3 separate regions of the Homo sapiens genome follow, and regions 1 and 2 are each reported to be linked to region 3. The links are microRNA targets in miRTarBase. Many come from high-throughput screens and were not tested one by one. Region 3 holds a microRNA gene; each other region holds the end of a gene's coding sequence.

The links. Region 3 holds the annotated microRNA hsa-miR-514a-3p (AUUGACACUUCUGUGAGUAGA, at 1,670-1,690, opposite strand). A microRNA usually pairs through its seed, bases 2 to 8, with sites in the 3' UTR of a target mRNA and lowers its output. Matches are read on the target gene's strand: a 7mer-m8 pairs with bases 2 to 8, a 7mer-A1 pairs with bases 2 to 7 and ends in A, and an 8mer does both.
Region 1: the mRNA of GCFC2 is a reported target of hsa-miR-514a-3p. Seed matches in the 3' UTR shown: 7mer-A1 at 3,033-3,039.
Region 2: miRTarBase lists CRTC3 as a target of hsa-miR-514a-3p. Seed matches in the 3' UTR shown: 8mer at 1,052-1,059.

What each region holds. Positions count from the first base shown.
Region 1 is chr2:75,661,161-75,665,160 of GRCh38, forward strand. It overlaps GCFC2 (GC-rich sequence DNA-binding factor 2), which reads right to left. Exons shown (of 17, transcript NM_003203.5): 17 at 1,545-3,623. The coding sequence ends at 3,506. MRPL19 (mitochondrial ribosomal protein L19) reads left to right here. Exons shown (of 6, transcript NM_014763.4): 6 at 1-1,046. Among named protein-coding and RNA genes, the nearest start is that of MRPL19, 16 kb to the left of the region's middle.
Region 2 is chr15:90,641,352-90,645,351 of GRCh38, reverse strand. It overlaps CRTC3 (CREB regulated transcription coactivator 3), which reads right to left. Exons shown (of 15, transcript NM_022769.5): 15 at 7-3,420. The coding sequence ends at 3,212. All of the region lies in intron 2 of CRTC3-AS1 (CRTC3 antisense RNA 1), which reads left to right. Among named protein-coding and RNA genes, the nearest start is that of LINC01585, 17 kb to the left of the region's middle. RefSeq lists an enhancer at 3,429-4,000.
Region 3 is chrX:147,280,288-147,284,439 of GRCh38, forward strand. MIR514A2 (microRNA 514a-2) reads right to left here and starts at 1,743; the gene lies at 1,656-1,743. LOC101928863 (a long non-coding RNA gene) reads right to left here. Exons shown (of 4, transcript XR_001755997.2): 3 at 3,388-3,493; 4 at 2,098-2,142.

The sequences.
Region 1 (4,000 bases), not on the chromosome of region 3:
CAACACCAGGGAGCTTGTGGGGGAAGGGCAAGCAGAAATGTCACAAAGCTTTCTTGCCATTTTAAAGTTGCCTGTTCTTGACTCAGCATTTGCTTCATTGCTATAAACTTTTTACTGTTTTTCAGAGTTCTGATAAAATTGGCTATGCCTGTTCCTGCTTTAAAAAATATATATATATTTTTTAGGGATTGGGGTCTCACTATACTGACCAGGCTGGTCTTGAACTTCTGGCCTCAAGCCATCCTCTCATTTCAGCTTCCCAAAGTGCTGCAATTACACGCGTGAACCACCACACCCAGCCCCTGCTTGTTTTTCAATGTGCCTACTCCACCATGTTGCTCAAGTATGTATATTTTCTAAACTACCTTGTAGTGTTGTGATGGGAAATAAATCCCTGAGCCTTTTGAATAACTCAGAGAGATCAAAAACTTAGTTTATCCTATTCGAAGGATTAGAAAAATGATATATCTTTCACTTTTTCAGGGATAGGCTCCTCATTAGAAGGCTCCTATGTGCCGATGCTGTACAAGACATTTCATTTCTCTTAATGTTTACAACAAGCTTGTTGCCAAGGCTGATCTTGAACTCCTGGCCTCAAACGATCCTCCCAGCTCAGTCTCACAAAGTGTTGGGATGTCTGGCCAACTAATGACTATCTTAACTCTTGTGTTTCAATGTTTATGCCTTCTTTTATCTTGACTGATTGTATGACTATGTCTTCTAGAACAATGTTGAACAGAAATGGTGAGAGCAGACATCCTTGCTTTAATATTTCACCATTATATATGATGTTAGGTATAGATTTTTCTCACAGATGCCTTTTATCAGATTGAGGAATTTATATTCCTACTTTGCCGAAAGGTTTTTGTAGTATGAGGGGGTGCTGAATTTTGTCAAACACTTTTTCGGTAATAATTGAGATGATTGGTTCTGCAGTCATCGAGATGTGGATTTTCTCCTTTATTCTGTTCGTGAGTGATTACACTGGTTGACTAATGTTAAAACAACCTTACTTTCCAGGAATAAACCCTATTATCTTTTTTATACATTGCTGGATTTGATTTGCTAATTATTTTAAGGACTTTTATTTCTACATTCATGATAGATACTGCTGGTATTTTCTCATGATGTCTTTTGCAGGATTTGTATCATATATGGCATTTCTGAGGTATACCTAAGTATCATTTATTCAAGGACCTAAGAAATGGAAAAATCAATTGAGGTGATTTTTCCATCATGAAAAAAATTTCTTTAAAGTCATCTGTCTGATTCTGTAAAAATTTCACATTCTTTATGTGAACAAAAAGCTGAAAGAAATTCAGGGAAAGAATTAAGATGTGATATCAATTGCCAACCCAATGTTTTGTTCTTGCTAGTTGTGTTCCCCCTCCTTATTCCATCCATTTCATAGTAATAAGAAAAAAAAGAATTTTACATTGAGATTTAGGTAAATTTTTGAATTACAGTATATGATAAAAACCTTAACGTTCAAACTCCAGGTATAATGAAATTTAATTGAAAATTACTATAGCAGTTTAAGTCAATTTGTAGTTTTGAAAGCAGTTTTAATATTTTATCTTCCACAAAAAGGTAGGAAAGTTTCTGTGCTGAACTTAAATATATAAAGGAACACGTCCAACATATTTAGTTAAAAATCCAAAAGTCAGAGGATAATTTCCAAATGTGTACTTAAATAGAAAAAAATTACAAATTTCATGTGCAATAAAGTGTCTGCCACTTACGTAAAAAAAAAAAAAAAACCCAAAACTATGTACACATAGAAACACGTAACATTTTTGTAAATAGAGAAAAGGTCTAAAAGGATAACATTAAAATGAAAACAGCAGTTATCTCTGGGGACAGCGGTTGTGTGGAAATGCTAACTGCTTTTCAACAATAGTTTGCATTTTCTAGATGAGATTCTATCCTTGTATAATTTTGTTACTAATATAAACATCAAAAAATTCTTCATACCAGTGAATCACAAGTCCTCACTGCAACAGACATAACAAATCCAACTCCTAAAATAAATTATATGTAGTTTTGAAGGTAGAGGTGACATAAAAGTAGGCTGTATATTCAAATCCTACAATATATTCAATTTTTTCCAATTATCTTTTGAACAACAATTTGCAAAATATATTTACAGTTTCCCTTAAGTTATTTAATAAGTAGACTTAGAAAAATTACTAGTAAACTAACATTTTTGGAAAATTTTCTTAATTTCTTTTGATTAAATTATCTTGCCTCTGTTTTATTAGACAAATATTTTATCAGAAAATGAATCACATGTTGTGAGTATTTAAAATATCTGTTTCCTTCTTAGTCCTACCACCAATGACAAAAAAACAAAATAGTAACTTGCTAATAAGTAATGACTTAATGCTTCAAAAAACATCAACAAATTTAAAAGAAAGGCCAAACATGGTTGCTCAAGCCTGTAATCCCAGCACTTTGGGAGGTCAAGGTGGGTAGACTGCTTGAGCTCAAGAGTTCGAGACCAGCCTGGGCAATGTCACGAAACCCCATCTCTACAAAAAATTACAAAAATCAGCTGGGCATGGTGGCGCATGCCTATAGTCCCAGCTACTTGGGAGGTTGAAGTGGGAGGATTGCTTGAGCCCAGAAGGCAGAGGTTGCAGTGAGCCGAGATTGTGCCACTACTCTCCAGCCTGGGTGACAGAGCCAGACCCTGTCTCAAAAAATACAATTAAAAAAAAAATAAAAGAAAAATGGCAAATAAGGAAAACTTCTGCCACAAGCATGGGCAAAAAATCAATATCTTTAAAAATATAAAGGTCTTAAAGTCCATAAGAAAAAGATGGATATTTCAGAAATAATTACAAATGGCCAAAACCAATATGTTTACTCTCTAATAGCCAACACAAAATACGCTATTAAAATAAGATTTTTACCTTTCAAATTTTCAATGCATTTTTAAAAAGGATAATAACTACTGCTGGTAGGGATTCATTGGCACTCACTTATGCTTATGTTGGTACATTAAATTGGTACAGATTTCTGAAGGATAATTTGACAATCGGCACATGCCTTAATCATTTAATACTTAGCAAATAATTCACTCCAACTGAGATTTTCATATTGACTTATTTTTAAATAAAGGTAGTTAAAGAGAACTAAAAGATATTATTGTGGTTCAGGACAGAAGACTTAGTAGCATGCTCACTTAAGCTAAAACCTTTAGCAAGGTTTCTCCAGTTCCCCTCTTAAGAAAATTGAAAGACCAGCCAAAAGAATCAAAGGGAAACACGTTGAGCTCTTAAAGCTCCAGTGCATTTAATTCCTTAGAACACCACAGAATCATGGCAGCTTTTCATGATGCCAGAAGGTAAAGCACGGGGGAATACAGAGGTGGAGTCCTGCTTTTTTTCAAATCCTACCTTCTATTACAGGGAATAAAGAAGAGAGAGGCACCAGCTTCTTCTCAAACAAAGGAACTGAGTGTAACTATATTAAAATTTTAGCATTTTCCAATAAAGTTTATTCAATCTTCTTTAATTAGTGATTTAAGATGGTCTAGGTGATGCTCTCCTATGAAGGATTCTGCTTGATTCAAAGCTTTTATTTTCACCAAAATAAGAATTATTTCTTCGACTTCATCCCTGAAAAACAAAACAAATTTCTCCCTTTAAAAATGCAATGTATGAGGGAACAGCGGTCAATTCAGAACCTGATCATCAGTTGTTAATCTAAAACAAAAGCTTTACCTTAAGCCAATATCTAAAGTAGCATAAAACACAGAGAGATGCTGCCATCTCCACTTAATTATAAAGTTCAAATACAGATCATTAGTGGATGTATTCTGGCAAATTTCAATGTGAATTACTGTAAAAGGTAGAAAAGCATATAGTAAGTCTATCAGAAATTTCAGTAGTGCTGCGTTGCTATTAGCTTGTATGAGACATTGTGGTGGAAGCAATGGTGGGAGTATATTCACACATCATGACATTAGCAAATAATACAAATCTGATTTTTTTTT
Region 2 (4,000 bases), not on the chromosome of region 3:
ACCAAATGCAGAGACAACCTCATTGTGATGCTTTTAATTACAAAAGATGTAAAATGATGCATTATAAAACTTGGAAGCAACTTTATACAAATTCCAATTTTTAAATATGGTTGAACAGGGTGCCCTGGGGGTTAGGACACTGGCAGGAAGTCTGATTAGTTGCTGGGATGGTCCCATCCATGAAGCACTGGACACATGCTGGGAACCATCTGTGCATAAATCAGAAGAGCCAACAAGAGTGGGAACAGGAAAGGTCTGCAAATACGCATATGGACTTGAAGATACAACACCAGCTCAGGTAATATACAGCAGGCGGAGGAGAAATGAAACAGGAGAAACAGGACAAAGGAGAATTCATGACATGATCAAGAAACCCCTTCTCCTAACCCCCTATGTCCTAAAACCCACAACCATACAGAAAGAAAAAATGGAAATGCAGACAGGTTTTTAGTTCTATGCTGTTTAACTGCTGTAAGTGAGAGTAGTACAATGGTCGATTTCTTGTGACAAAACTAAATAATGAAAAATAGTTTACTCTGAAGTATGCAGCTGCTTCAAATGCTGAGGACCACAACTGGTTTTGTTACAAAGGCCGCAGTGAGTGCAGGCTCACGTGCTGTGGGCCAGGGCGACCCTGCCCGTGGTGAGTCCTCCACACCTTCTAGGCAGAGTGGGTTGTACGATGCCCAAAACCTTTCACAAGAAAAGATCGGACTCACTCATAGACCTAAGGACAAATTGAATTCAGTGCTAAACCATATTGCCCCCAGTGTACACCCCCAATAAATCACTTCCCCGGAGGTCTGTTTTCACAAGTCACCTGGAGAACGCCTTTGGGGCAGTAGGGTTCACTGTGTAGGTCTTGGGGTCTCTGTTGCCAGGCAGGGTGGCTGCTGTGCAGACAAACTGAACTGGGACCCGGATATGACGATACCCATGGGTAAGGCACTATGTGAAGAGTGACTATGCTGAGACCTCTGTTTTATAAAAACACAATTCTTGAAACATCAGCACCATCGCCTGTTGAGAGTGAGATCAGGTTTGGAAGCCCTTTGACACAGGAGCTGGTTTCTTTTGGCACATGGGGTGCTGGGTAGCATTGCGACTGAAGGCTCTTTAACAAAAAGCCACCCCCTCTGAGATCTTGAGCACAAAGGGATCTGAAAGTGTAACTGGGAACAGGGCAGGCCAGCAGGCCCTTCCTGAGCTGGAAATCAGGCGAGGAGGACTCTGGTTTGATTTCCCAATTCCACAGCAAAGATTTGGGGCAAATGTGAAACAGGAATACTTGGATTCCAGAGGAAGGTGGAGGGGCACCCCATGAGGGTTATTTTAAAGATGAGAGGCAAGGTCAGAAGATAGAAATGGAATGAGGTCGGGAGAGGCTAACCAGCCCAGGGTCTTGTGACCACGACTCCTTTTACATAAGGGACAGGTGTGCCAGATTCAGACCCTCATTGTACAGCCTTGCTCCTCTGGGTGGAACAGTCCAGCAACCCTCAGTACACTCCAGGGTCTCCTGGAAGGGCAATGGCTGTCCAAGCAAAGGTCCTGGCATCTTCCGTCTCTCCTTCAGGGTTCTCCTCCTCTCCACCCTGTCCTCTCACAGCCTAGACCCCCCCCTCCCCCTGCAGTGCTCTGCCCCCTTCAAACCTACTGGCATCACCCAAGTTAGAGGAGGCAGGCGGTGGTGGAAATCTGGCCCATCTATTTTATGAGAAGGTATTGATGACTAATGATGCTTCCATGAATTAGGCCTTCGTTTTACTATAAACTATTTTTTCAACCTCAAAGAATGAATCTCTACTTGAAGCAATTTAGAGCCAAACGTGGATCTGAGAAGGAAGATCTTCCTGGGTGGGGCCCAGCCAGGATGCTCAGGGCACTCACCTGCTCAGCCCTTCCGGATGTACTCAGAAGACAGCTCCCACCCACCCGCGTGGAGCACAGCCCAAGGAGAATGCAGTGCCCGGCTTCACTGTGATTTGGTCACCTAGTGTTAAAAGCATATTAAAGTGCATGCTTCACCATAGGCACGAGTGCTAGAAAAGCTAAAGCTCTGAGAAGATCTGGCAGGGAAGGGGATAGCTACAGGTGAGCCTGCCTTACGGCATGGCGGACGCACTCATTCATCATGCGCTGCACGCACGGTTCTGCAGCACTCACTCCAGCACACGACTGTGCTGCCACGCACGTGTTAGGTGCTACGGGTTCAACAATGATAAGGCACTGTCCCTGCCCTCAAGGAGCTTACGGTCTAGGGGGGTGACATTAGACTCCCAGCCCACAGAGACACAGCTCTGGGGAGGGATGGGGAAGCTCAGTTGCTCGGTGGGTGGGGTTAGGGCCTCACCAGCTCCCTCTGGCTGCTCTTAGTGGGGAGGTCTGTGCTTGTCTGGAGTTTGTCTGGAGGCCACTGAGTATGAGACACCTGCAGTCCCTGTCTTCCTTCCCCAGCCCCCGAGGAGGAGCACAGTTCTCTTCAGGCTCATCAGTGCCAGGGGACTCTTTTCAGTGACTGATAAAATGGTCTTCCTCTTCCTCTGGTCCATAAGGAAAAGGTGTACTTTTCTGAAGCAGCAGAAACCAGCTGGGAGAAAATGAAAATTAGCCTTCAGTCTGCCTAACTCAAGCCTGCCCTCGGGCTTGTGGTAAAAACTTCATGTCGTAATCCAGGCGTGGGAGAGAGCCGTGGGGTCCACTCAGCCTGGGAATGTCCCCCGCTGGAGGGCCTCGCCCTCTGGGTCAGGTCAGAGCAGGCATCGAGGTGCCCTCTCCGGTGCCGCCGCCCCAGGCCGAGCCTCCCACTCCGGGCCCGCCTTCGGTGCGGACGGAGATCAGTGGTTCTGAGCACACTACACAATGCTACGGAGGCCTCCAGTGACACAGTATTTCCTACTCTTACACATCGGCTGACTGGATGGCCAGTAAAAAGATGCAGTGGAGGTGAGCTTTCCAGTTCATGGGAAGCTCCAAGCAGCCTGCCTGCTGCAACACGACTTTGGCCACAGGCGGGAGAGGCAGTACAAAGCTGTGTGATCTGGAGGAAGCCACAGTGTCTGAGATGGGATCTCATCTGAAACCCTGGAGCCGTGGCATTGCTTCCTTCTATGTCAAGATAACGAAAGCCCGTGGTATCAGCTGGCTTCATTCTATTCCATTCTATTTTGGCTGTTGCAGAAAAACATTCTTCTGTTCCACTGCCTTCTGTTCACAGTCTGTCAGCTCGAAACGTCTCTTCAACAGAGGGGTCCAGCAGGCCCATGCTGGAGTCACTTAACATGTTGAGTCCGTCCAGGCTCAGGGGTTCAATCTGCAGCTCCTCTTCCAGTGGAAATGGAGTGTCCACGTTCAGGCTGACCTCAGGCAGGCCTGCCAGCGCACTGTTGAGGTCTTTGAACAGGCTGGTGCTGGAGTCTTCTGAAAGGAGTGGCCAGAGGGGAAAACAGTGCGGTTAGGAGGCGCGAAGGCTCCAGGCTACTAAGCAAACCCAGCTGATGACAGTCCCCTAAACTGCTATCCCACACATCCTGACCACCCCCAGGCCCACAGTTCTTGCCCTGGAATCTACATTCTTGTCAGTCAGTTGCACAACTCCCAATTTTTGCAGGTTTTTTCCTTTTGAACAGTCATCAGTCACCTAAGATGAAATCTTTTTTTTTTTTTGGAGACTGTTGCCCAGGCTGGAGTACAGTGGCACAATCTCGGCTCACTGCAAGCTCCACCTCCTGGGTTGGTGCCATTCTGCCTCAGCCTCCCGAGTAGCTGAGACCACAGGCGCCCGCCGCCATGCCCAGCTAATTTTTTTTGTATTTTTTAGTAGAGACGGGGTTTCGCTGTGTTAGCCAGAATGGTCTCGATCTCCTGACCTGATGATCCGCCCACCTCGGCCTCCCAAAGTGCTGGGATTACAGGCGTGAGCCACCGCACTGGGCCAGATGAAATCTTTCAGAAAAGGCTTTGACTACCAGGCCCACCGCCCTGTGTCACGGTCTCTGAG
Region 3 (4,152 bases):
GTTAGAAGGAAATTCAAGTAAAAAGATTCACAGCCTTAAATTGGAGTTTCTTTTAGAACTTAGCAGCTACAGGCTGAAAGTATTTTTAAATATGGAAGTGGGAAAGTTTGAGAAACATCAACCCTAGTTTATAAGTTTTTATTGAAACAACAATGAATACTAAAGGAAATCATCTCAATGCCTGAACATCTTGAAATCTTCCTTCTTTAATATGAAAAATACGAAGCCTATATTTATAGCTGCAGGAAGCCCAGCATCTTTCCAAAAAGTACTAGTATTTCTAAGAAGATGTCAACTCTTCTCAGCATTATTAACCCCCATATTCCTCATCTTAGCTGAATGCCTTAAGGCCCACTGGCCACTTTTTGCCTCTATTTTCTCTGTGAAGCTTACCAAAAAGAAAGAAACACCACCTTCCCCTCCATTTCTCAAGGGAGAGAAAAAAGGTTATAGTAGAGGAAGCCCCAATCTCCTGTGGACACTGACAAGTTTTGTTATCAGAGAGCTTGACTGTAATCTGCCTGTCCAATTCACCCTTCTCTCTTCTCTTGCCACCATGTTGTCTTGTGCTGGGCCATTCTCTATTCCATCCAGTAAACATGCAGAAGCACATACATCAGTCATCATAGCCATGTGCTGGCTTTAGGCTGATAGAGGATAAGAATTTAGATTCATTCTTTCAGACATACCTGTGCACAGTCACAATCAGTTTAACAGGCAGCTGCAACATTTTAAGACAAGAAACTCATGTTCCAGTCTCTGATCCGTTTTCCTTGTGGTCAAGGATATTCAGTGCTGGCAAAAGAATACATTAAAATATCTTCAATTTCTTACTGGCACTTTTTGGAAACCTCCCAGGGAGAGAAAACCCCCTCCACCTAAAACATCATGGCAACAGTCACTGTCTTCTTTTTCTCTTCACCTCATATTCCACTGCCTTGGGATTATACTACACAGCTTGACAGAGTCTTTGTCTGTATGTTGTTCTTTCCTTTTCACCTCTAAAACCAAAGTGCCTCAACAGTCCCCTGAATTTGTGACATAAAATCCCTTGGAACAGGATGCAACTGTAGTGGGCTGCAGATGGGTATGGACATCAAAAAAGATAGACAGGAAAAACTGAGATTCCCTTTCACTGCCAGGGAAGAAGGACTGTCTTAGAAGCATTGAGAGATTAGAGATTGGTTCGACTCCTTAACTTAATACAAAACTTTGCTCCATAGTGCTTTCCTAGAGTAGTCTTCTCTGACCACCTCATTTGAAATTGCACACCTCTTCCTCTCTGCCATACTGCCCAAACCTCAATTCGTTTTATTGTTTCTCTATAGTACTTAAAGCTATAACACATAGTTAACATTCTATTCAGTTATTACTTCTTGTATATTTGTACCAATAGCATATCAGCTTTTTGAAGACAGAAAGTTTTGCCTCTCCCTTTACACTACTGTATTTGCAGCACTGATATACAGTATGATGTGCTTGATGATTTCCTGTTGAACAAATCAGTGGCCTCTGAAAGGCACTTAAGAGGCTTCCCTTGAGGGAGGCCAGCACTAGGGGTTTGAAGAGGTGTTATACCTGCACTTTAGAGAAAGCTTCCCTCTGTGTACAATAAAACACCCTCAATGCACCCACAGTGCCATTGTCTGTCGTAAGTGTCATGCGTTACTCTACTCACAGAAGTGTCAATCAAATTTAGTTATACATGATTGTCACTCTCCAGAGTAGGGTACCACAGACAACATGTTTAAGGATGGAAGCCCTCCCTAAGCACCCATTTGTGCACTTTTGAAACAACTTCTCAATGCTTTCAGGCTGTGAGTAGACGCTGACAGTTGTCCAAATAACCTATGCAATACCCACTCCGCTTGTCTTTCTTCATTCATCCCTCTTGAGTGCTATCCCCTCATGTGTCATGGGTTTTACATGGCAGTTTTCAGAACTTTTTGTCTAGGTTCTCTTGCTCATGAAAGAAATATTCTTGCATGCTTTTCTTGCAATGAATCAGCAGTATGCAGTCCTCAGATCCAACAGTTAAGCAGAAAATGCTTAACTCCAGTCTTAAAAGATCTGAGGCCCTTTACCTAAGTTACTTACCTCTACTCTGGAACCACAAAGTAAGTGGTGAAAACACACAAGATCCTGAAAGCAAAAAGAAGGAAAATAATCTGTGATTGCTGTGGTGGAGATAATAGAAATTTATTTTCTTTCTTAGACTCTGGAGTAAAAAGAAGCCCATTTTACTTACTGGAAGTGATCTATAAGACAGATATGAGCTTGTGGTCTAGAGATGCCCTCATATAACTCGCAACTTAGAAATTTTCTTAGTCTATTCCTGGAGCAAGGTTGTTTAGAGCATGTTTTTGCATTTTGTTATCCAACACACATGCTATTTGGTGTCTGCATTTCCCTAGGACTACTGAACCTGGTACAACAAATTACAGAAGAACAAATATTTCTAGAGTCCAGGGACTGAAAGAAGTTTTAACTCCAGCACATCTTGTAGGCTTCTTAAAAATTGAATTTTTATTGTTATACAAATTTCACATTCATCTAAACTCACACAAGTGTGCACTAAAAAGCAGCTGTATTATGTATATGCATGTTAATTACATATATATGTAATTGCATCTATATTATGTATATGCATATGTATTTACATGTTACTTACACGTATATATGTAATTGGCATTAAGGGGTTAGAAGGAAAGTCAAGTAAAAAGATTCACAGCCTTAAATTGGAGTTTGTTTTAGAACTTAGCAGCTACAGGCTGAAAGTATTTTTAAATATGGAAGTGGGAAAGTTTGAGAAACATCATCCCTAGTTTATAAGTTTTTATTGAAACAACAATGAATACTAAAGGAAATCATCTCAATGCCTGAACATCTTGAAATCTTCCTTCTTTTATTTGAAAAATACGAAGCCTATATTTATAGCTTCAGGAAGCCCAGCATCTTTCCAAAAAGTACTAGTATTTCTAAGAAGATGTCAACTCTTCTCAGCATTATTAACCCCCACATTCCTCATCTTAACTGAATGCCTTAAGGCCCACTGGCCACTTTTCGCCTCTATTTTCTCTGTGAAGCTTGCCAAAAGTGAAGAAACACCACCTTCCCCTCCATTTCTCAAGGGAGAGAAAATAGGTTATAGTAGAGGAAGCCCCAATCTCCTGTGGACACTGATAAGTTTTGTTATCGGAGAGCTTGACTGTAATCTGCCTGTCCAATTCACCCTTCTCTCTTCTCTTACCACCATGTTGTCTTGTGCTGGGCCATTCTCTATTCCATCCAGTAAACATGCAGAAGCACATACATCAGTCATCATAGCCATGTGCTGGCTTTAGGCTGATAGAGGATAAGAATTTAGATTCATTCTTTCAGACATACCTGTGCACAGCCACAATCAGTTTAACAGGCAGCTGCAACTTTTTAAGACAAGAAACTCATGTTTCAGTCTCTGATCCGTTTTCCTCGTGGTCAAGGATATTCAGTGCTGGCAAAAGAATACATTAAAATATCTTCAATTTCTTACTGGCATTTTTTGGAAACTTCCCAGGGAGAGAAAACCCCCTCCACCTAAAACATCATGGCAACACCCACTGTCTTCTTATTCTCTTCACCTCATATTCCACTGCCTTGGGATTATGCTACACAGCTTGACAGAGTCTTTGTCTGTATGTTGTTCTTTCCTTTTCACCTCTAAAACCAAAGTGCCTCAACAGTCCCCTGAATTTGTGACATAAAATCCCTTGGAACAGGATGCAACTGTAGTGGGCTGCAGATGGGTATGGACATCAAAAAAGATAGACAGGAAAAACTGAGATTCCCTTTCACTGCCAGGGAAGAAGGACTGTCTTAGAAGCATTGAGAGATTAGAGATTGGTTCGACTCCTTAACTTAATACAAAACTTTGCTCCATAGTGCTTTCCTAGAGTAGTCTTCTCTGACCACCTCATTTGAAATTGCACACCTCTTCCTCTCTGCCGTACTGCCCAAACCTCAATTCGTTTTATTGTTTCTCTATAGTACTTAAAGCTATAACACATAGTTAACATTCTATTCAGTTATTACTTCTTGTATATTTGTACCAATAGCATATCAGCTTTTTGAAGACAGAAAGTTTTGCCTCTCCCGTTACACTACTGTATTTGC